Linked DNA regions of Homo sapiens. The protein of the gene in region 1 purifies or fractionates together with the protein of each later gene. This does not show direct contact. Each region holds a gene or a part of one and is shown in the gene's direction. Other genes may lie near its edges.

Evidence for each region.
Region 2: the proteins of PRMT8 (region 1) and FBXW11 purify together in Homo sapiens (affinity purification with mass spectrometry; 3 studies listed by BioGRID and IntAct, with this or other methods). This does not show direct contact.
Region 3: the proteins of PRMT8 (region 1) and LRRC45 purify together in Homo sapiens (co-immunoprecipitation; 2 studies listed by BioGRID and IntAct, with this or other methods). This does not show direct contact.
Region 4: the proteins of PRMT8 (region 1) and FAM120A purify together in Homo sapiens (affinity purification with mass spectrometry; 3 studies listed by BioGRID and IntAct, with this or other methods). This does not show direct contact.
Region 5: the proteins of PRMT8 (region 1) and LSM14A purify together in Homo sapiens (affinity purification with mass spectrometry; 4 studies listed by BioGRID and IntAct, with this or other methods). This does not show direct contact.
Region 6: the proteins of PRMT8 (region 1) and INA purify together in Homo sapiens (affinity purification with mass spectrometry; 3 studies listed by BioGRID and IntAct, with this or other methods). This does not show direct contact.
Region 7: the proteins of PRMT8 (region 1) and DHX9 purify together in Homo sapiens (affinity purification with mass spectrometry; 3 studies listed by BioGRID and IntAct, with this or other methods). This does not show direct contact.

The regions. Positions count from the first base shown.
Region 1 is NC_000012.12:3,564,203-3,567,702, forward strand, and holds part of PRMT8 (protein arginine N-methyltransferase 8), read left to right. Parts: intron 1-3,500. UniProt on the Homo sapiens protein: S-adenosyl-L-methionine-dependent and membrane-associated arginine methyltransferase that can both catalyze the formation of omega-N monomethylarginine (MMA) and asymmetrical dimethylarginine (aDMA) in proteins such as NIFK, myelin basic protein, histone H4, H2A and H2A/H2B dimer.
Region 2 is NC_000005.10:171,861,049-171,863,638, reverse strand, and holds the end of FBXW11 (F-box/WD repeat-containing protein 11), read left to right. Parts: 3' UTR 1-2,090; downstream 2,091-2,590.
Region 3 is NC_000017.11:82,026,305-82,028,977, forward strand, and holds part of LRRC45 (leucine-rich repeat-containing protein 45), read left to right. Parts: intron 1-594; coding exon 595-707; intron 708-1,081; coding exon 1,082-1,140; intron 1,141-1,369; coding exon 1,370-1,447; intron 1,448-1,706; coding exon 1,707-1,842; intron 1,843-1,929; coding exon 1,930-2,007; intron 2,008-2,092; coding exon 2,093-2,204; intron 2,205-2,308; coding exon 2,309-2,379; intron 2,380-2,673. UniProt on the Homo sapiens protein: Component of the proteinaceous fiber-like linker between two centrioles, required for centrosome cohesion.
Region 4 is NC_000009.12:93,458,185-93,461,684, forward strand, and holds part of FAM120A (constitutive coactivator of PPAR-gamma-like protein 1), read left to right. Parts: intron 1-3,500. UniProt on the Homo sapiens protein: Component of the oxidative stress-induced survival signaling. May regulate the activation of SRC family protein kinases. May act as a scaffolding protein enabling SRC family protein kinases to phosphorylate and activate PI3-kinase.
Region 5 is NC_000019.10:34,179,004-34,182,503, forward strand, and holds part of LSM14A (protein LSM14 homolog A), read left to right. Parts: intron 1-3,500. UniProt on the Homo sapiens protein: Essential for formation of P-bodies, cytoplasmic structures that provide storage sites for translationally inactive mRNAs and protect them from degradation. Acts as a repressor of mRNA translation. May play a role in mitotic spindle assembly.
Region 6 is NC_000010.11:103,275,822-103,279,937, forward strand, and holds the start of INA (alpha-internexin), read left to right. Parts: upstream 1-1,316; 5' UTR 1,317-1,390; coding exon 1,391-2,455; intron 2,456-4,116. UniProt on the Homo sapiens protein: Class-IV neuronal intermediate filament that is able to self-assemble. It is involved in the morphogenesis of neurons.
Region 7 is NC_000001.11:182,856,347-182,859,846, forward strand, and holds part of DHX9 (ATP-dependent RNA helicase A), read left to right. Parts: intron 1-185; coding exon 186-232; intron 233-1,757; coding exon 1,758-1,894; intron 1,895-2,204; coding exon 2,205-2,294; intron 2,295-2,386; coding exon 2,387-2,548; intron 2,549-2,693; coding exon 2,694-2,771; intron 2,772-3,500. UniProt on the Homo sapiens protein: Multifunctional ATP-dependent nucleic acid helicase that unwinds DNA and RNA in a 3' to 5' direction and that plays important roles in many processes, such as DNA replication, transcriptional activation, post-transcriptional RNA regulation, mRNA translation and RNA-mediated gene silencing.

The DNA.
Region 1 (3,500 bases):
GGGGTCAGGGGGCTTCATAGGCTCATAATATGTTCCCATGCCTGTGACCCTCATGCCTCCTCTTGTGTGGCACAGGACCTGCTCTCTGAAAGAGTGAGGACCTAAAAATGATCACTAACTTCAGATCCTACGGGCATCAGCTGACCCTGATGGATGCACTGGAGGCTCAAATGAGGTTGAGCTGGCCTGATTTGTTTAAAAACAAAAATGACCATTAATGAGAATGACTAGATTTCTGTAAGAACCACTCAAACCAAAAAGAAAAAATTCCACTCAAAACCATTTTTAAAAATCTGGATGTCTCACTTACAAACTTGAAGCTACAGGAGAAGTTTTCCCAATTTAGAGTCTATTGCTCCCTGCTGTGCATTTAGTTCTGATTAATCATTCTGTAATTTACCAGCCAGAGTCCTGTCATAGTTCGTTGAACAAACTTTCCATCATCCTTCTGGAATAAAAACATGGATCCGGACGGTGACCTCAGTGCAACCTTGAGTTGATGCAGTTTTAGTGACTTGGGGTCCAGATTGGGCATGGAGCTCTGCAGCCTACGGCTGCTCGGAATCTTAATATCAATAGCTTAGACCCCCTTGAAAATCCTTTGCATGGAGGAGAAGGGAAGACTGCTGCTGTGTGTGCCCACACACTTCCTTGAGCCAGCCTAATGCCCTATGTTGGCCAATAGCCCCTAGTAAGTTGGCATATGCCCCACCATGACAGGTAGCATTTTGTAGATTGGAAAATTGAATCTGGAAGTTTAAGTGGTTGCTGGTGGTGACTACAGACTGCAGGAAGAATATTCATGGTGATTCAGCTGGACAGTTGTATTTGGCTGCACAGAAAGAATGTGACCTCTTAAAAATAAAAAATAAAAGGACCCAGGAAGTGTTGAAAATGACAGTCAAACTGGAACTTGGAGGCACCATCTTTTTTTATTGATGCCAGCTGTCTCCACCAGTGAATCTTGCAGAATGCCTTACACATAACAAGTGCTCAGTACACATTTGAAGAACCGCAGCTTTCTGGCACTGCAAAGAATTTCAGATTCAACCTCCCTTCTTTTTTTTTTTCCTAATGAGGAAAATAAAAGAGAGGAGATGTTTGATTGAGATTAGCTGTCACCTGGAACAAGAGCGTAAGTTGCTGCCTTTTAGGATTCCAGCATAAAGTTGTGCAGGTTGAGCACAAAAGCACCGGAGAAAGGGGATAAATGGAGTCTAAAAGCCAGTCCAGCACTGGATTGAAGGGAGATGGGTCCTTTTCCTTTGACAAAGGGCTCATCTCCTCACCAAGCCAACTGTGGGGCCATGTCCACACTGAGAAATGTCTGCACTTGAATAGATGTAGAAGGGTGATGTTAAGAGAACAGAAGTCCAGACTGTTGAGGATTTTATAGGGTTAACTGATTCCTTCTGCCTTTTTGCAAGCAGAGATTGTGATTTTTGCTATTCTGTGACCCCCTATATCTAGCTATCATCTATCTGTCTTCTATATCGTCTGTCTATCTATCAATCATCTCTTGTAATCCATATTGATGAGGTTACAGCAACTAATTGATAAGAGGGCTAACACAGAGAACATGAGCAGCAGTAACTCTCTTTGGGGGACACCTGAGGAATATTTCATACATACCTGTTTGTTAGACTTGATGATGGATTACTCCTTGTCTGTTTCCTGCAGCTCCTAATAGAGTCCTGTCCACAAAAATTGTCATGGGTGGAGCCTTGTACTAAACACTCAGGGTAGAGGTCATGAGGCCCCGGAGGCAGGAGAAAACATCTTCTAGGGCTACAGAGAGGTCATGATATAAATGCAGGAGGAGGAACTGACCCATAGCCACACAGACACAGGCAGACATTAGGGAAGAACCTTCAAGAAACGTGCAAAGAAAAAAAAGTAAGGGAGGCCATTAAAGACAATTTTTAAGTTTACAAAACTAAGGCAAGCCAGGCTTTGCATGCAAATGATTAGGCAGGTGAGTCATGCATATATTTGTCAGTTCTCTTTCAAAATAAGAAATAAATTAGGCACAATGTTTGCATTTTAAAAAATCCTTTACTTTGCCACTCTATGAATTTTCTTAGTGCACCCTGGGCCCTGCTCTCAGTTGAGTTCCTGCCCTGGGGTCTCTGAGACCCAGAGAAACTTCAACACCTACCCCTCCCACTCCCACCAAAACTTTTGGAGAATAGCTCTTCCTGCTCATACTTTTTAATGGTAGGGGCTTTTGAGCAGTAACCAGTCAGGAGGGCCACCCAAGACTGAACCTCACTGTAGAGTGACCAGGGTCAATGCATGTGTACAAAGTGTCTTACTCCTTGTAGAGCAGGCTGTATCCAATTAAAGCTTGATTAAATACCACATAGTGGAGAGTAAACTGTTATTAGAAGCTGCTAATGGACACTCCATCACCTGCATTATTCACTGTGAAGAAACTAAATAAAGCCAGCAAACGGTGTGCTCTTTGCCATCCAGGAGCCTCAGTCCAAATTAATTTTCATGAAACTCAGATTCTAGGCAGATGTGGTTCTTTTGATTTTTACTCCTAAGTACAGGCCATTGTTTGTTTTTCCCAGCAAAGCTCAGGCATTGTGTGAGTTTTTTTCAGAGGATATTGCAGAATGAGAGTTTCAGAGCATGAATATATGTAACCTTTCAAAGGAAATGTTCAGAAAGAACAAACCAACCAATACATCAGCCTGCCAATTTAACAGTGGTATCTAAACTAGCTTGCTCAGATCTTTACAGCAACAAATACAAAAAGGGACTCCAAAATTATGTGTATGTCTATGTCAGTTTATCAAAAACTCAACTAAGAAGTGTCTCCTCCCACAGAGGAAACTGAAGTTCTTGAAGGTGACTCATAAGAAGAAGCCACTGGGGACAGGGGCTTTGACCCTGGCCCTATCTGCTTCCCCTCTCCATCTGTGGATCAACAAGCAGGAATATGTCAGATAATGTCCACCTTCTGTTGAGCTTTAGCTATGGGCCTGGCACTCCACATGTGTTATTTCATTTGATCAATACAATCACCCTCTAAATTGATATTGCTTTTCATGGTTGTTCACTTGGGAATTGGAGTTTAGTTAGGTCAAGTAACTTGTCTAAAGTCGTACAGCTAATGGTGAGAAGATCTGGCACTTAAACCTAGGTTTCCCTGACTGCAGAGCCCATGCTCTCATCAAAATATCAATTTCCTCCCTCACAAACACTAGAAGGGCACCCATTTGGTATTGAGCCTGGCTGTGAACAAATGCAAAAGCAATAGAGGAGGCATCTATGCTTTCTTTGAGTTTGAATTGTCATGGTAACCTAACATAGGGGTGGGGGCCTTGAGAAGAGTTTTAGAGTCATGTCATATCAGATCTGGGCTCTGTTTCCACTGCTGCTACTCAACCTCTCTAAGCCTCGGTTTCCTTAGTTGTAAACAAAAATAACAGTTGACCCCGACTACCACAGGGGTTAGGGGTGCCAATCCCCCACACAGTTGAAAATCCAAG
Region 2 (2,590 bases), on another chromosome or scaffold:
CCAAGTCATTATGAATTCTGACTTGTTGTATTAGGAACATGTTGGACAGTGGAAAATTTTCTCTGGATTGTTTTAGTAATATTTTTGGGATTATACTTCCTTTCTGTACCAATTTCTTTTAATTTAAAGAACTATAAGTCAGTTATATTATCTACCAACAGGTAATATAGCTCTTTCTTTTATTAACTGTTCTCTGTCCCCCAACCATCTCCTGATATTTGGTAGAGTAACACCTTTATACGTGTGCTTGCCTCCTAATTTAAAATACTGTATTCGCATGTAGATATAATGTACATAACAGTTTAACCTCAAAGTTGCTGGAGTCAGGGCCCCCTGTGCTTGAGACACTAATACAGAGTGTGTTCGCACTTAGCCATGGGCTGGGCTCAAGAACCTGATACCTGGGTTGATGTGGATTACCTAGAACCCTTCCTGCAGTATTCATACAGTGTTTTTATTTTGTTGTTGTCATTGCGTGTGTGTGGTTTGTGTGTGTTTTTAATGAGAATCTTGTTTTAAAATGTAATTTCTAAGGTTTAACACCAAAATGTTTTATTTGTTGTGGAGTATATATTATACAATAGAGAGGTACCTTAAACATTTTTTGTTCTTATTCTTTTTCTCATAAGTACTCCTGAGTACAAGTGGTCACCTCCCATAGTATTCATTTGGCTTCGCTGTCAAAAATCATTATTCTGTGCAGTCGTGGCCCTGGGAAGGGGAAATAAGAAGGCCCTGTTGACGGGCTGTCTTGGCTCTGGAATTCATGCATCCTGGCCTTGCCAAGGTTCTGGCAGGGCCTGCTGGTGTGTTGGAGCCTGCAGGGCAGGTCAGGCTGGTTCAGAGGCCCATGCTGAGGGGTGGGTGCTCTGAAGTGGAGTGAAGCCTCAAGCCCATGAATGCCACCCCAGTCATCTCTGGTGTCAGCTGCTGCTGTGGCCCCAGCAGGTTCTCAAAGCTCCCAAGTCCTCCCTACGACACAGCCCAAATGTGTAAATGGCACTGTTGCCCTGACAGTGCATGGAAAGGACGTTGGCATCCAATTGGCACTCCTTCTCCCTTATTCAATATTAGGTTTGATTTGCCCTTCGCCATTGTTTCCAAAGATCAAGGAATGTCAATAACATTTTAAAGGACCAATAAACAGCCTCCTATAAAGTAAACCTCTTCCCGTGGAAGCACACTCTACTACTAAAGGGAAGGCCCTGGGCTCTGATTTGTCCTTTGCATTGAGAACGGTGTGGGGATCAGTGTGTGTGTATGTGATTTGTTTATTGAGTTGGCTTTGCTTTTTTAGTTTTTCTTTTAAAAATAAAATCCTTCCTTCCCATGTTACTAAATTAATTTATGTTTTTGAGAGGTTGAGTCTCAAAGTGTAAACAATAAACCTCCATTCATAAGGTGGATGTTGTAAGCTTGATGGTGGTTGTGAAAGTGATTTAGCTTTGACCACTTTTCATCCTACAGCTTCAATATCAAACTGGTTAGGAAAGCCCAGGGGGAAGGGAGGGGGCAGGGGAGGAGGCAATTCTGAATGAATGAATGGATTTTTTGTTGTTTTTGCATGTTTAATATAGAAGTTCCCCTCGTTCCTTGGGAGATGATGGCCTTTGAATATGCAGACAACCTTTGAATTGTGCCTACTAAATTATAGCAGGGGACTTTGGCACCCAAGGAGTTCTGACTTTCTGGGATTATAATAGTAATTCCCAGCCATACTCTGGACTTTATTTTGCTAACCATAACTGAGCAAATGTAAATTACTGCTATATTAATGTTTTAAAGCACTGGGATAGTCTAATTCTAACTTGTAATTAATTATGTTTGCCAATTATCTGTTTGAAATAAATTTGTGTCTGAACAGCTATTGAAACTGTTAAATTGTACAGATATTATTCATGACAGCTTTGTACTGTGGAATGTGCTTAATAAAAAACAAAAAAGTTTGACTTTTGTCCAGTAAATTGCTAAGTAATGTCAATAAATCGAGTATGGGTATTATGCAGTGCACCTAATCTGGCTTCATGCAATTGTTACTTCAGCTACTGATTCAAAGCCAATACTCTTAATAAAGTGTTGCAATACTCTGACGTTCTGTTAAGAAATTTTTCAAAGAAACTGTTAAGTGCTGTTAGGAATTCAGTGACATACAATTAAAATTTATAGATCTTTAGAATCATCTGTTCTGTAAAATGAGTTTGAAGGCAAACTGGTTTTGGCGTGTGAGAATGTTGTAGTAGATGATATGATTCCTTGTCTTGGGCTTTTGCCGAAAGCTAGCTTGAACTTCAGGAGTTAGCTGAGGGCTAGCTAAGAACTCTTGCCCTGCAAATCTGCTTCCCACACATAATTAATTGCTTCACAAGTTACTGTCAACATGAAAATGGCCTCTGAGACATCCCAAGTGGCTTTCAGGTGTGAGTGGATCCTCCCCTTCTTGAAGAAGGGCCATGGAGGTGTGAGGGGCAGTTTCGCAGCCCTCTCCACCATAGCATCAGAAATGAATAGTTTTGTGTGTGCAAGTGTGTCACTGGTAGAGTATTGAAGCAGAAAAAGTCGAGTTAGTATCTGTAGGATTCTACTCAGAAAT
Region 3 (2,673 bases), on another chromosome or scaffold:
CCCTTGCCTTTTGCGGTGGAGCAGCTCCCACCACCTCTGCCCCACATGTGCACGCGCTCCCCAACACCAGGCGGCTCTTGCTCACAGCCCGAACCCCACAAAGCACTTCCACCCCCATGCACTGAGGGGGCACCCCTGACTTGCCGGGTGAGACGCTGCCCCACACGGCATAGATTCCCAAGCAGCCAGCCGCTGGGTGCAGGGCTGGTGGCCACCAGCTACTCCTGAGGCTAAGCAGCCCCGGGGTGACACAGCTCCTTTGTGTGTGTGTGTGTGTGTGTGTGTGTGTGTGTGTGACTGAGTTTCACTCAGTCACCCAGGCTGGAGTGCAGTGGCGCAATCTCGGCTCACTGCAACCTCCACCTCCCGGTTCAAGCGATTTTCCTGCCTCAGCCTCCCGAGTACCTGGGATTACAGGTGTGCGCTACCATGCCCAGCTACTTTTTTGTATTTTTAGTACAGATGGGGTTTCACCATGTTGGCCAGGCTGGTCTCGAACCCCTGACCTCAGGTGATCCACCCACCTCGACCTCCCAAAGTGCTGGGATTCCAGGCATGAGCCCCTGTGCCCAGCTGACACAGCTCCTTCTGCAGAGCAAGCCATGGGCCACAGCCAGGACCGGCTCACCACCTTCCAGGAGAACCAAGCCCGCACTCACGTCCTCAGCAAGGAGGTCCAGCACCTCCGGGAGGAGAAGTCCAAGCAGGTGAGGATGGCGCCTTCACTGACCTTGGAGCTGCTTATGGCTGGAGGGCCTGGCCACGTCCTTCCTCCCTCAGCCCCGTGGTCTGCCCATCTTCCCTTCCTCGGGGCCCTGGAGCCTCTCTGAGTGGCTGGTACCAGGAAGGAGGGGCGGCCTCCTGGTCTGATCTGCAGGTGGACTTCCTTGGGGAGCTGGCGTCTGAGCCCTGAGGCCTCGCTCTGCAGGGGCCACCCTTCCTGTGAAGGAGACAGGGCACCGTGGGTGGAACCCTCCGCTGCCTTGCCACATTGGTGGGCGCTGGCTCTCCTTCCCCCTGAGAAGGTCAGGTGGACAGGCTGCAGGTGCCCTGACAGGGCTGCGGCTGTCTCTGTCCCCAGTTCCTCGACTTGATGGAGACTATTGATAAGCAGCGAGAAGAGATGGCCAAGAGCAGCAGGTGAGCGGGCCCAGGGCAGGGGCAGGGTGAGGCTTCAGGGATCAGGTCCTGGCTCAGACTCAGATGGGACCAACCTGAGCCCACGAGTGAGGCCACGAGGAGGTCGCTGGAGGCTCAGTGCCCAGGCGACCATAGATGCTTAAGGAACAGCAGCAGCTACCGAGGCCAGAGGGGTATGGGAGCGCTCTGGGGTTTGGGTTACTCTCTGCACCCTCCTCTCTGCCCACAGGGCGTCGGCAGCCCGTGTAGGGCAGCTTCAGGAAGCCCTGAATGAGAGGCACTCCATCATCAACGCTCTCAAGGCCAAGTAAGTGGGGGGTGGCCTCAGGATACTTCAGAGACGTGCCCACAGGGCAGAGAAAGGTGGTGTGAACCTGTGTGCAAGTCCTGTTTGCAAAGCAGAGGTGGGAAATGGTGAGGCTGGGGCAGTAACCCAGAAGCCTTCCTGGAGGAGGCGGGTGCTGGCTGGGGTTGACTAGGTGCCCAGCAACAGTGAAAGCAGCGAGGCCTTTATAAGGCAAGTGAAACTCCAACCGGGGCGGGGGTGCTGCCCCTCCTTTCTGCAGGCTGCAGATGACAGAGGCCGCCCTGGCTCTGTCGGAGCAGAAGGCCCAGGACCTGGGGGAGCTCCTGGCCACAGCGGAGCAGGAGCAGCTGAGCCTGTCACAGAGGCAGGCCAAGGAGCTCAAGCTGGAGCAGCAGGTGGGTGGGCAGGGCTTGAGAGGGGTGGGCCAAGGGGTGCGTGGCGGCTTCGTGACCCTCACTACCCATACCCCGTTCCCCTCCCAGGAAGCTGCAGAGCGGGAGTCTAAACTCCTCAGAGACTTGTCTGCTGCCAATGAAAAGAACCTGCTTCTGCAAAACCAGGTAGCTGTGGTGGATGGAGCCAGGGAGCCCAGGGTGGGCGCGGCAGGGCTGGGCTGCAGCTTCCCTCCCTGGTGCCGGCTTTCAGGTAGACGAGTTGGAGCGGAAGTTCAGGTGTCAGCAGGAGCAGCTGTTCCAGACCAGGCAGGAGATGACCAGCATGTCAGCTGAGCTGAAGATGCGGGCCATCCAGGCCGAGGGTGGGCACGGGCAGGCCTGCTGTGGAGGGGCCTGGGGATGGGCACCGGGGGACGGGGGCCCCCAGGGGATGCTCACGCATACTCTGCCCACCCTGGGCTTCCAGAGCGCCTGGACATGGAGAAGAGAAGATGCAGACAGAGCCTGGAGGACTCCGAAAGCCTGCGCATCAAGGAGGTGCCCTCTTCGTTGGCCTCTAATGCGCCTCAGTCTCTGGTCTTGGTGTCACGCAGGTGTCCCCAAAGCACACACCTGGTGGGAGCTTCCCTTGCCAACCTTGGGTCACTGGGTGGCCGTATTTTGCCAGCCTGAGCGGATGTCAGACCCAGAACCTCCTATTGGGGGCGGCGGGGGGACCCCGGCAATGTCTGAGCCGTAGTACAGGCTGCCGTTGAAGAGACACCAAGGCCCACTCGTTCAGGGTGTGCATGCTGCGGTAGTTTCCTGCTAGGCCATCTGAGGCAGTGCTTT
Region 4 (3,500 bases), on another chromosome or scaffold:
GTGAATTTCTAATTGCACTTTAGATACTCCAGAGCTTGGACCGTATAATTAGTGAGAAAAGTGACCCCACCTTTAACACTTCTGAACGCTGTGTCCCTGTCACTCCTTGCCGCTCCCACCGTCTGTCCCCTGCTTGCCTTCCGCCATTTCTCTTTTCCCATTCTGTTGGCTTCCTTTTTAGCTGTAACTAGCTTGAACTTCATGATCATTCACTTCAGAGTTACACCCTCTACCACCATAGAGTCATGCTTGGTATTCCAGCATCCCATCCTCCCAGTCCCTAGAATAATGACACACCAGGCCAATTCTGGCTCAGTAGTCTCCTACTTAACTGTTATACTCTTCCTTTTTTCCAGTACCCCCAACATTTGAATTCACCATATTTATCCAAAAGGTCGAAGAAATGCTTTGCAAACCCTTCAGTGGGTTGTGAAACCAAATTATTGGATGTTTGCCATTACTTAAAAATAACGGAGTAAAATAGAATGAAAAATAGAATGCAAGGCATATACTATAGGTAAATTCCATGTCATTACACTTTTGTATTACTGTGGGTAGCAGTAAGAATGGCCTCTGCACCTACCCCCGCGCCCCAGTGGAACTAATCTTGCACAGCTTTGGCAGGGTAGACGGCCACATCTTCAGGGAGGTCACTCTCCTGTTGGGACTTGAACAAAACCATTAAGTCCAAATTCCTTATTCAGACTTGTAGACCTTCCTGCGACCTGAACTCATTTGACCTTACTTAATGTTTCACAATCCCTCTACTGTACTTTTTAAAATGTTCCCAACCCAACTGGTCACTATTTCCCCAAGAAATATCCAGTTTCTGCTTATGTCATTCCCTCTTGTTTAACTACTGTACTGTGTCCTACTTTTGCTCATCAAAATTTTACTTACACTTCAAAGCCCATGTCAAATGCCAGCCTTCTTCATGGAATCTCTTGATATTTGAAAAAGTGGACTGGGAATACACACACAGCATGGTGTATGTTTGCAGTGGACATTCTAGTCTGTTGTATTGCACCTACCTGCATAACTGCATATTTACCTCCCCCAGCCACCCGTAGGCTCCTTGAGGCCAGGGACTGTTTTACTCCTCTTGTACCCCATTATGCTTAGCATAGGCACTCAACTCTAATCAGAATATTTGCTGCATTCCATTATATAGCCAGACAAATTAAATTATTTCAAAATCTGGATCAATGGCCATTACTTAAGTTTTGTTTTGTTTTTTTAATCTTAAATTTCTCATACTCTCTTTTCTGACTGGTTCCCAATGGTGATTGATTCTCCTTTCAGCAAATGTTTGAGCACCTGTTAATGCCCAGGCCTGGAGGAGTGAACAGAACAGGAAAGGAAGGAAACCTTCAGGGAGCCTATAGCCTCTGGGTTGAGGAGGTTCATTTAAATCCTTTTTTTCTTGTTTGGAACTTTCTTTAATACTGTAGAACAATATGTTTACTCAGTGAAGACCTGTGAGTGGCTCTCAAGTAGGGTTGACAGTTGAGACATTTGGCAGGGGACATTTGGCAGTGCCTGGAGGCATTTTTGGTTGTCACAGCTGGGGGAGGATGTTAACTGAAGGCATCTATTGGGTGGAGGCCAAGGATGCTGCCAAACATTCTACAGTGCACAGAACAGCCCCCATAGCAAAGAATAATGTGGCCTAAAATACCAGTAGTGCCAAGGTAAGGAAATCTTGGTATGAGCAAATCAAAGAATTATAAGCTTTATGCCTTTGTAAAGTCATATAAATGTTTGCGATAGAGATGTCCAAGTACACCAGGAAGAAAGTAATCAAAACTACAACTTAATTTTCTGAATCAAAATACACGCAGGTATACTTCCTCCTATGTCTAACATGTTTAGATCGACATTGTTCTTCATTTTAGTTTTCTGAAATTTATATGAATAGGAAGAAACTAATTAACACATATTACACATTCCAACCTTAATAAGCACTACACCATAGGAATAAATGTCAAATATCGCGTAACATGAAGAAGAGAGATTTTAGGATTTGAAAACTTAGACTACTTTCCAGTAGATTTATAGGCAGAATTTTCTAAATAAAACAGGCATTTAAATGAATCACAGTTCAGATAAAAATATTCTTAAATTATCTAAATGTCTCCATATAGTTCATCGTTTATTTCCTTTTCGCTTTTTTTTGAGATGAAGTCTCACTCTGTTGCCCAACCTGGAGTGCAGTGACACAATCTCAGCTGACTGCAACCTCCACCTCCCAGGTTCAAGTGATTGTCCTGCCTCAGCCTCCCAAGTAGCTGGGATTACAGGCACGCCATGCCCAGCTAATTTTTGTATTTTTAGTAGAGACAGGGTTTCACTATGTTGGCCAGGCTGGTCTCGGACTCCTGACCTCGTGATCCACCCGCCCTGGCCTCCCAAAGTGCTGGGATTACAGGCATTAGCCACTATGCCTGGCCCTATTTTTGCTTATTTTTATGTTTTCTCTAGAAGTAAATCTGATGAAGACCTTGCCTGTTATCCAGCTCTTAGAGCGATGCTTGGTGTGTAGTACATGCTCAGAAAATATTTGATAAATGGATATGAATCACCAGTTACAGGCAAGGAAGTGTGATGGCAGAAAGATGGTAGGAAGCAGAAGTTTTAAAGTCCCCCTAGAGTTAATTCCAAAATCACTGGTGTCAGCTTGGCCACCTGGTGCAGAGCTTTTATCTTTGAGTAAACCTTTTATGCTTCTTAACTTAGGAGATGTGTTGAGGGCATAAAATGGGTGACTGCTTCAGGAAATGGGCTGCATTTAGCCACCTTTCCTCTTGTTACACCTGGCTTTATCACACATTGTTTCTAGGCATCTTAGGGGACAGTGTAAAAGAGTTGAACTTGACCCACTGCAGTATTTGTAGAGGTGATGGTCAATCTGCATTATGGAGTTTAGGATCTGTGATTTAGAAACGGTACTTTTATGCGCCAGTCATTTGGCATTTCTCAGTTGTCTCTGGAATCAATTAACTTTCTTGAAAGGATGAATTTACCATGTTGGTGTTTTACTGGTTAGTGCAGGAAAGTATACTAGAGGGTTTATTGCTGGAGGGTTGACTTCACAGGTCTGAAGTACATCATTCATCCTCTGAGGTAGAGCACATTTATGAATAGTAGTAACAAGCCAGCCCAGACTGTTGGAGGGGGTCACTAGACTCCATGGATGAGGTGTTTTAATTTCCTGGACCTATGAAGAGTTTGCAAGTGTTACTATCTTGAAATAAATAGTATCAACCTGTGGTTCTTTTTCCTAAATTATGAAAATTGAAATTTTATGTTTTAGATTTTGGAATGGTATTTTAATAAGAATGATATTACTAGGATTTAGCTGAGTCATTAGATTACTAGAGTAGGCTAAATAGATTCTGAATACAAATAATGTGTGTGTTTCTTCCTTTTATCATTGTATTTTTTTATTTTTAAAGTTTGTAAAGTTTAATTTGCATTTCTTTTATGACATCACTCCTTTA
Region 5 (3,500 bases), on another chromosome or scaffold:
TATAAGTGAGTAGGATGCCTAAATAGGCTAAAATGAATGAAATTCTTATAAAAAATAAATTCTTACATTTAGTTAGCTTACCTGGATAATCATTCAAATGGAAACCAGGTTGCTACTGCACTGGGAAAAGAGACTTTATGAAGAACGATTATATAAGCCACTTGCCTTTAAAATAAGTTGTTCTTAAAATCAAGAGATTGGTGGAAGAATAGAAAAACAAGTAAATTGTTAACAGATTTCTTTAATCATCTGCTAAGTCTGGCTCATTGGCATAATTTATCTACTTCTTGATGTTAGTCACATAGTCATAAACTATTACCTTATTGGAGAGAGTGGAAGAGCTTTGTGTGATGGATAAAATACTTGCGGGGTGCTTTATTTGATTTCTTGCATTACTTGGGGATCTAAATCTAGCAATTCACAAAATTACTATCTAAAATGACAAAGATCTAGTGAAACTTCAAGCCACAGTTTCTTTTTGTTGCCCTATTTAGTGATGTTGCCAGTACTTGGAGCCTTGGAAACAGTTTATTATTGTTACATAGTCCGCAGAAATACTTGGTAATTCTGGGAGTCTGAAGTCAGGTGCCAGAAACTGTTCATTTTCTAGTAGGGGTAAGTAAGGTAAGCCATGATTTTCTAAGTCGGAAGTAAAGAAAACAGCATAAAACTGAAGAAAAAAAATAGTAGAAGGAAGGAAGTAGGAAGAAAAAAGAAATCTTATCTGTGCATGATACATAGCAGGAGTTTTGTATTTAACTCAGTGCCACAGTAATAATAGCAGTAACTACAGATAGTTTAACTTGAATTTAATTATTCCGTGCTAGAAGATGCTTGCTATAGAAACAATTTGTCTTTCTCTCATGATGCTATAAAATAATATATTAATTAGCTGTTTTAAAAACTAGATACCATTGAAGTAAATTTTGTTGTTGTTGTTTTGAGACAAGAGTCTCACTCTGTTGCCCAGGCTGGAGTGCAGTGGCACGATCACAGCCTTGACCTCCCTGGGCTCAGGTAATCCTCCTGCCTCAGCCTCCCAAGTAGCTGGGACCACAGGCACACACCACCACACCCAGCTAATTTTCTGTTTTTTGTAGATACAGGGTTTTGCCATGCTGCCCAGGTCGGTCTCTAACTCCTGGGCTCAAGTGATCTGCCTGCCTTGGCCTCCCAAAGTGCTGGGATTACAGGTGTGAGCCACAGTGTCTGGCTTGAAGTAAGTTTTTTAGTGGACAAAGTGTGAGTTGGTCTGTAAAATAATTTATTCCCAAGGGCCTTATTCTAGTTTTGTAGGGTTTTTTGTTTGTTTGTTTTTTTCTGGAAGAAAATGCGACCCAAAATGCCAGTTGGAATACTTAGCAGCTTTTTGGTCTTGGACAAGTTATTTAACCTTAGCTTTAACTTCTTCATCTTTTCAATAGGGATGGATAATAATGCCCATCTTTCAGAGTCATTCTGATAATTAAATGAGGTGATATAAAAGAAGTAACTAGTTTAATGTTGGTGCTTAATAGAGAATAGCTGTCCCATGTTATTTCCCACCACGATCTCCCTCTCTGTCTAGGTGCTCAGTCTCTCTAGTAGCCCAACTCAGTCAGTCATTCACACCTACTGTAGTCTACTGTCATCTTACTGCCTTTCACTGTCCTCTCATTCCCCTCATAACTTTACTTCCTTCTTTATCCTGCTTCAACTCCATGAGCAACCACGACAGTCAGTACACATTCCCTCAGCCCCCACCCCATTCCCCTCTTGCTGTCTTATACAAGAAATCACAACCCTGATTATATCAACACAGATGTGCTGACCAGCCTCACTCTAAATTTATGTTCGCTAGCCTCCGCAGTCATGGTCACTTCCTAGCAGTCACACTATACTTCCATAATCCATTTCACTTTTCTACATGGCTATTCCATTCATTTTCCTCAAGCCTCCAACACCTCCCCCATATTCACTTTCAGCCCCTTAACCGTGCTTTCTATAGCAGTTAACTGAGAAAAGAACAGCAAACGAAAGATAATTTTGATAAACTTACCCCTCACATACCCAGTTACCTGCATCTGTTCCCCAGACTTCTATGTTTTTTTCTGATCAATATGGATAAACTGTTCTTATTTCTGTCTAAGACCACCCTTCCACTTGTGCAGCATTTGTCCCCTCTTGGTGATTCAAGAACATTGCTCCAGCAGTTCTCTACTCTCCTCAGTTTTTCCTTCCCTAACGTATCTTTCTGTCTGCTTACAGATAGGCAGTTATTTCTTCTACCTTAAGAACAACCAAAAAACCCCACTGTACTTGAACTGAATTTCCTCTTTTCTAATGATTACCCCATTTCTATCCTTCCCTTTATAGCGAAACCCCTTGAAGAAGTTGTCTACACCACTGGTGTTCATTCATTTTTGAGCCCTGTTTACTAAGGTTTTTATTCCTACATATGAAGTTTTCTTATCAAAATTACCAAAGATTTCCATGTTACCAAATCCAGTAGTTAGTTCTTAGTCTCATTCTACTTCACCAGTCAGCATTACGTGGTACAGTTAGTCTGTTCTCTGTGAAGCATTTTCTTAACTTGATCGTATGCCATTTTTTTCCTCATATCTCACTGGTTACCTCTCAATCTCCTTGGCTGATTGAACCTGTAAGCCGCCAAATGTTGGGAGAGCTCCAGGGCTCAGTTATCTCCCCTTTTCTCTCTGTCTGTTAACATTTATTTAATCATCTGCATTCTTTTGATGATCTCATCCATCTAGTTCCTGGTTTCAAATACTACCTGTATATCACTGACTCCTATCTCTAGCCTGAATTTCTCCTCTGAACTCCTGACTTGTATATCCATTGCCTCTTTAACATCTCTACTTGTAGGGAAGTCTGCTAGAATCTCAATTCAGCATGCTCCAAACCTGTTCCTCCATCAGCCTTCCCCATCTAATCAAATGACAGCTCTATTCTAGTTGGTAAGACCAAAACACCTTGGAGCCATCCTTAATTCCTCTCTCTCTGTCTCACCTCATGTGATCCGAACCTATCAGCTCTGCTTTCAAACTAGATGCAGAATTTGACCTCTGACCACCCCTACTACCCTGGTCCATTATCTCTCACTAGTCTATTCAGAGATACTCAGATTCCTGTTTCTTGTTTCCAATATTGACCTCTCAGTTGATTCTTTCTCCTCCTCCCAATTTTACTTGAGTGAATCTTTGTAATTAAAAAATAAAATATATGGGAAATGTAGGTGACAAATTTTCTTAGTGAACCTATGTTTTCTTGTGCTTGACTGGTTGGTTGGCTATGTATTTCCAAATTAAGAGTCTTTTTTCTGTGGAACTTTGAAGTTACTGCTTTTTGTTCTTCTAATATTCTGGGGTTGCTGATGCCAGTCTGACTCTCAGTCACTTTTCTCTCTGGAAGCTTTTATTTAGAATTCTCTATTCCTGGAATTCACAAATGTGATCACACTGGTTTGTTGTTGTTTGTTTGTTTTTTGGTTTGGTTTGATT
Region 6 (4,116 bases), on another chromosome or scaffold:
CTTGCAAGTGGGTACATATTACAGACGCCACACTGACCCCTCCCAGCCTTCATCTTTTCAGATTCCATTCTTTGATTCTCACCCCCTGCCCCACCAACCCTACCATGTGGCAGAAGAGGCCGGCTCAGTCACCAGCACTCTCCCCCACTCCTGGAGTTTAATCTTTTTGCAGGGATCTCTTTTCTCCAAAAAGAGATCTGCACAGGGAGTGGCTCTCTGAAGCCAGTTGAGAACCTGCCCTGCTGGATTTACACAAACTGAAATCTCAAATGCCCACAGGGTCAGAGAGGTAAAGTAAATGAATTAAGAAGGGGGGCGTAATTCAGTGGAGAATGGCAGGGACTGTAGTGAACAGGAGAGCACACTTCTTATACAAATGGCAAGGGCAACTCACCTCTGCCACTGTGGGCATCCCAGCTCTTCCCATTTTCAGAAGAAGCCAGAAATCCAATTTCTTTACAGGTGAAATCTCCTGGTTTAAAAATGCTCCTTTCGAAATATTTTAAAATATAATGCTCTAAACACAAAAGTCTGCAGCCCCCTTTCCAGCAGCTTGTGGTCCTGGCCTGTGCCATGCTTTAGTGCCCTAACGATGAGCCCCAGCAATTCCCAGCGCCTCCTGCTTCTCCAAGTCTGGCCTCTTTTCCCCTCTGTACCGCCGCTTCTCCCCACTCTCCGCAGCTCGGGGTCACTTTCTTTACTGATCTCCCCTCTCTTCTGGGAGAGGCACTTGCTGAACATCTTTCCGCCCGGAGCCTCCCCAGGAGCTGCAGAGGGGCAGCTGGAGAGATGCTTTCTGACGTAGCATCTCCCACCTTTCTCCTTGGGGACCCTGAGGAAGGGGACAAGGGCTCGCTCTGCAGGTCCTCACTGTAACTGGAAAAACACGACCTCGCCCTCGGGAAGGCTTTCTGTGCGCCTCACCTCAGGATGAGGGTGGGTGTAGGGGACACCTCCCAGAAACCCCTAACCTCCCAGTCGGTTAAAGAAGAGGGGATAGGGTCAAGGGATGCGACAGAGCTGTGTGGTTTCCGGATGGGAAACCTCAGTCGTTTAGGCACCCCTCCGCTCGAGTCACTTCCGAAGCAGTCGATTCTTGGGGAGAAGCGCTGCGGAAAGGGGCGACTCCGATGCAGATGGCCCTGTCCCGGCGCCCCAGGTCGTCGCGCGCGCAGCTGCGGTAGTCACTGCGCCTCCCCGCCCCCACTCCTGGATGCCCCCCTTCCCTCTCCCGGCCAGACTCTGAGCAGGAGCTCCGCCCCCAGCGCGCCGCCCCAGCCCCGGCGCCTTAAAAGCCGGGCGCACCGCCCCGCCGCGCCCTGCCTGCCGCACCTCTCCTTTCTTCTGTAGCTCGCGTTGAAGCCGCACGTCCGGCCCCGATCCCGGCACCATGAGCTTCGGCTCGGAGCACTACCTGTGCTCCTCCTCCTCCTACCGCAAGGTGTTCGGGGATGGCTCTCGCCTGTCCGCCCGCCTCTCTGGGGCCGGCGGCGCGGGCGGCTTCCGCTCGCAGTCGCTGTCCCGCAGCAATGTGGCCTCCTCGGCCGCCTGCTCCTCGGCCTCGTCGCTCGGCCTCGGCCTGGCCTATCGCCGGCCGCCGGCGTCCGACGGGCTGGACCTGAGCCAGGCGGCGGCGCGCACCAACGAGTACAAGATCATCCGCACCAACGAGAAGGAGCAGCTGCAGGGCCTCAACGACCGCTTCGCCGTGTTCATCGAGAAGGTGCATCAGCTGGAGACGCAGAACCGCGCGTTGGAGGCCGAGCTGGCCGCGCTGCGACAGCGCCACGCTGAGCCGTCGCGCGTCGGCGAGCTCTTCCAGCGCGAGCTGCGCGACCTGCGCGCGCAGCTGGAGGAGGCCAGCTCGGCTCGCTCGCAGGCCCTGCTGGAGCGCGACGGGCTGGCGGAGGAGGTGCAGCGGCTGCGGGCGCGCTGCGAGGAGGAGAGCCGCGGACGCGAAGGCGCCGAGCGCGCCCTGAAGGCGCAGCAGCGCGACGTGGACGGCGCCACGCTGGCCCGCCTGGACCTGGAGAAGAAGGTGGAGTCGCTGCTGGACGAGCTGGCCTTCGTACGCCAGGTGCACGACGAGGAGGTAGCCGAGCTGCTGGCCACGCTGCAGGCGTCGTCGCAGGCCGCGGCCGAGGTGGACGTGACTGTGGCTAAACCAGACCTGACCTCGGCTCTGAGGGAGATCCGCGCCCAGTATGAGTCCCTGGCCGCTAAGAACCTGCAGTCCGCGGAAGAATGGTACAAGTCCAAGTTTGCCAACCTGAACGAGCAGGCGGCGCGCAGCACCGAGGCCATCCGGGCCAGCCGCGAGGAGATCCACGAGTATCGGCGCCAGCTGCAGGCGCGCACCATCGAGATCGAGGGCCTGCGCGGGGCCAACGAGTCCTTGGAGAGGCAGATCCTGGAGCTGGAGGAGCGGCACAGTGCCGAGGTAGCTGGCTACCAGGTAAGGGCCGGGGCTGGGCGTGGGGAGGGGTGCCCTGCCCTCTTCCGCGCGTACCCTCTTCCTCTGGTAAAACTGGGCCCCAGGACTTAAGGGGAGGGCAAAAGAGAGGAGAGAAGAGCCGCGGCTGGAGGCGCTGGTTAACAAAAAACCCTGGAGTCTTTAATGTTAATTTTAGGGAACGCCCCTCATTTATGTCCCTGCCCCAGCCCTTCAAACAAAGAAGCCCTTAAATTTATTTGAGGTTCGAAAACCCAACTCTGCCTGTCTGTCAGCAAGCGGGCCTACACACACCGGCGACCCGGAGAACAGTGCCCCACCCAAAGTAAGACTGAGCCCAACGGGGCAGGTTACGTGGGCGGTGCTGTCTCGGCTATCTGGCTTGTTTGGTTGACTTTGAAAAGCTTTCTGTGCGCCCTAGAAGTTATTTATGGAGTATGGTCTGCTTCAGGGCTGAAGGAAGAATGCGATCCTGAACTGGGAAGAGTCCTATCCCATTTTCTTGACTTTCGCGCTCCAAAAAGTAGAGATTGGGAGCCAACAAGCTGAGCGATGCTTGAGCTAGTAGTAACCACCCTGCTCTACCCACCTCCCCAACACACACACACACACGATTCCCTTGTCCACCAGCACACACACACACACACACACACACACACACGATTCCCTTGTCCACCAGCTGACATTTCCTCCTTAAGAAAGCGTTCGCCGGTTGGCAAAACGTGAAAGGTCGGGGCGCTGTCCACGGTGCTGATCTCGAGTTCTTCCCATCTCAGAAATTATGTCTCTCCTGTCTCGTGTCCCAGTTATGAATCTCTAGGCAATTAACTGCTTTGATTTTTTTTTTCCTGCAACACCAACACATCAGTCTTGGCTACCTGCAATCAAAGGTCACCTCATAGACAACATCAGTTTTGGCTTTCATGGATGGCTTAGCACTAAACAAAAAACACTTAATTTGCTCAGCAGCTGTGAGGTCCCACTTGAAAATTCCTGTTTTGTTAGTATTTTTTTCATTGTAAGTGCATGTGATAAGTCACAGAGATGGTTTTTCTTTGTTCTAGTGTATGTATTTTTTCCATATTTCCCTGTCCTCTAAGCTCCTGTGATGGTATTGATTGGCTATTTCTTCCCAACAAAGGCCACTGTGTCTTCAGTTTTACTATATAAGAAATTCTGGGATTATGACCGCAAATGGCACAGAGGCAGGGGACAGGGTAAATGGAAGGTGTAGAAAAGAATTGGAATAGTGTGGTTCGGTTTCAAGGTACAATAAAAGCTCCTTTGAATAGAATGACTATAATTCAGAAACTTGCAATAATTCTAGCTAGGATTAAAGTTTACATTTGGTGAGATTAATAGGGCTTGGAACATTGGTAAAATAGAACCAAGAAAGGAATGAAATCTCAAAAGTAACATTTTAATCAGAAGCTAAAGAATTCTTATTGATGTGCAGGTATTTGCTGTTTGTTACAATAACTTCCTTTGATAAAGGAAAAAAGCCTGCTTGGACTGTTTAGGTTAGTTTGGTATTGCATTATCATTCAAATAAGTACTTCCATTTCTGCCTCAAAATCCATAACTTGAACTTTTCATTATGTACCCTAACCCCTGGATGGCCTGAATTAATCACATTTGGCTAATTGAGACTTCATTTTTTTCTT
Region 7 (3,500 bases), on another chromosome or scaffold:
CATGTTGTATATTATTTGAAGTTTATATACTTCATTTGTTCTAGGGTTGGGCAGAAATAAATGTTGGTAATTTTTTTTTTCTGTGATTTGCCTAAGCAGTTGGAAAGCCTGCCTGACTTGGGAGACCTGGATTTGCTGGTTTCTAACAGTGAAATTTCTAACCTTGCTTGTATATGTTGTTACAGGAGCTTTATTGCAGAAATGACCATTTATATCAAGCAGCTGGGCAGAAGTAAGTGTTACTGTTTCCCCAATATTCCAAGTCTCTGTATAGAGAAGGAATCTTCACATTTTAAGTCTTGAGTCACGTATACAGAAGCTGTATTATTTGAAAGAGCACATAATGTAAGATAGCATCTAGGGTATATTTTAGAATATTAGTAATTATATAAATTAGAGGCAAAGTCTCCCAGTTTGCATGTGAAAACAGACCATGTTAGTGTAATCTTTCAAAGGTAAGACACAGTGGGATGATTAGGAGTCTGCCAGTGTCAATTAATTTTAAACCTTTTTTGTTTTTTGAGACGGAGTCTTGCTCTGTCGCCCAGGCTGGAGTGCAGTGGTGTGATCTCGGCTCACTGCAAGCTCCGCCTCCCAGGTTCACGCCATTCTCCTGCCTCAGCCTCCCCAGTAGCTGGGACTACAGGTGCTGCCACCAAGCCCGGCTGATTATTTTTTGTTTTTAGTGGAGACGGGGTTTCACCATGTTAGCAGATGGTCTCTATCTCCTGACCTAGTGATCTGCCTGGCTCAGCCTCCCAAAGTGCTGGGATTACAGGCGTGAGCCACTGTGCCTGGTCTTAAACATTTTTTCATTTTTATATATACAATGAGTTATTTTGAGTGGATGGATAATACTAAGGGAGAGAGGATAAAGGCAGGCTAACTTCTGTCAGCTCACTTACCTTATCGAGGTTAATTTGGCTAGTTAGGCAGAAAGATACCTTTGTACCCCTTTGCTTTATATTCATCTCTCCTAAGGATGAATGATACAGGAGGAGAGGAAACTTTCTGTTAATATTTTCTATAAGGATATGAGTAACTTAGCTTTAGTTTAATGCTAAGGTCAGCAAACTATAGCCCTCTGGCCAGATCCAGCGTACTGCCTGTTTTTATAAGAACTGTTTTATTGTAACATAGCTACACTCACATTTTAGACTTTACAGGTCACACATTGTTATTCTCATTTTATTTTTACAACTCTTGAAAAACGTAAAGCCATTCCCAGTCCTATGGTTTATCAAACTCTGTTGTCAGTGACTGCTTTCACACATTAAAGGCAGAGTTGAGTAGTTGTGACAAGATACTATATGGCCTGCAAAGCCTAAAATATTTATTAATTGACCGTTTATAGAAAAAGTTTCCCAAATCCTGGTCTAGGTAACCACTCTGGACCCAATTACTTTTACTGGTTTATTTTTTACTCTTTGTCTTTTCAAACTATGTTTTCTTCCCCATTTTAATGTCTGATATTAACAGTGACAACTTTGTTGAAATAGGTTATTTGCTTTCATAATATTGATTTGTATGAGTCCTAGTATCAGCCAGTAATCAAAACTGTTGGTTATTTAGTTGATAAGCTGTTTGGCAATTTCTTTTGTTTAGCAGATATTAATAGAATAAAAAGGAACTAGAAGCCATGGCATACCCTGTATTTTAGGGCTTCTTGTGTACGTAAGCCCATAGTTTCTTGTGATAAGATGTTTCTTTACTCAGATGATTTCTTTCTGTCTGATAATCCTGACCTTACATTATAGGGATTTTTGCACGAGAACATGGATCAAATAAGAAATTGGCAGCACAGTCCTGTGCCCTGTCACTTGTCAGACAACTGTACCATCTTGGAGTGGTTGAAGCTTACTCCGGACTTACAAAGAAGAAGGAAGGAGAGACAGTGAGTCTTTAGATTTAATAGACTTGTGAGATAGTGTGAGATTCAATTTAGCTCTTGTTTAGTGTTTGGCTGAAGAAGTTTAATTTTAAGAATCTTACCTCAGGAAATGAAAATGGCCCTGCTAATCATCTCTGTGTCTGGCATGATGTTCATAATAGGCAGTGAGTAAATAATCATTGAAGTAATTCTCTCACAAAAGGGAACTGACTATTGGTTTAGGAATATTGTAGACCTAGTGTTGACTGTATAGTCTTAGCCCCATTATAGTAGATTTGAGTAGTGTTGTTAATGTGTGATCCTTTTTCCATAGGTGGAGCCTTACAAAGTAAACCTCTCTCAAGATTTAGAGCATCAGCTGCAAAACATCATTCAAGAGCTAAATCTTGAGATTTTGCCCCCGGTAAGCATAAAGCTGTTTAGTTCACATTTACGTAGAACTCTCCGTAGACAAGCAAATCATATTTTTTGTTTGTTTTTCTTATTTTTTAATAGCCTGAAGATCCTTCTGTGCCAGTTGCACTCAACATTGGCAAATTGGCTCAGTTCGAACCATCTCAGCGACAAAACCAAGTGGGTGTGGTTCCTTGGTCACCTCCACAATCCAACTGGAATCCTTGGACTAGTAGCAACATTGATGAGGGGCCTCTGGCTTTTGTGAGTGCAATATTGTTTTTGAGATCAGAGTCTTGTGTTTTACTCTTGAGACTATATTTGATTAGTATGTCTAGGTAAAAAATGGATTTATTTTGAAGCTGAATTATGTGCTTTTGTTTGACTATGTTGGCTTTTTGTTTTACAGGCTACTCCAGAGCAAATAAGCATGGACCTCAAGAATGAATTGATGTACCAGTTGGAACAGGATCATGATTTGCAAGCAGTAAGTCTGAATTATTTAGACAAGTAGTGCTCAGAGCTTCAGAATGTTCTAGGTATGGGTAAAAAGTCAATGAGCAGTACATTTTGCCCTTTTAAGGAGGGCATATCAAAAGATATGTACCAAACTGCTAATCCTAGTTACCCCTGAAGTTAGTTGCTATGAGTTGAGGGCCTGTGAGAGAATTTCACTTCTTAATGTAATTTAATAAAAGTGGAGAGATTTAAGGCAGTGACTCCTTTTGTTGTTGGTTTTTTTGTTTGTTTTAGTGTTTTCCAAATAAAAAATTAAAATGTTAAAAAGAATGCGTGTGCGACTTTCAGGGACAATGAGAATTTAGTTTTTGGACAACATCAAAAGATACATTCTTCAGAAGTGTAGTGAAAAGAAGTAGTTCTATTAGAGATATAAATATACACATTCTTTTTTGAAAAAAACATTTTCATCACTAAGCCAATGGAAATGAGTAAGTTTTTATAGAGATGGAAGTTTGGTTTTTTTGTTTGTTTTTTTCTTGAGACAAAGTCTCGCTTAGTTGCCCAGGCTGGAGTACAGTGGCTCAGTCTCGGCTCACTGCACCCTCCGCCTCCTTGGTTCAAGCAATTCTCCTGCCTCAGCGTCCCAAGTAGGTGGGATTACAGGCACACCCCACCACACCTGGCTAATTTTTGTATTTTTAGTAGAGATGGGGTTTCACCATGTTGGCTAGGCTGGTCTCGAACTCCTCACCTC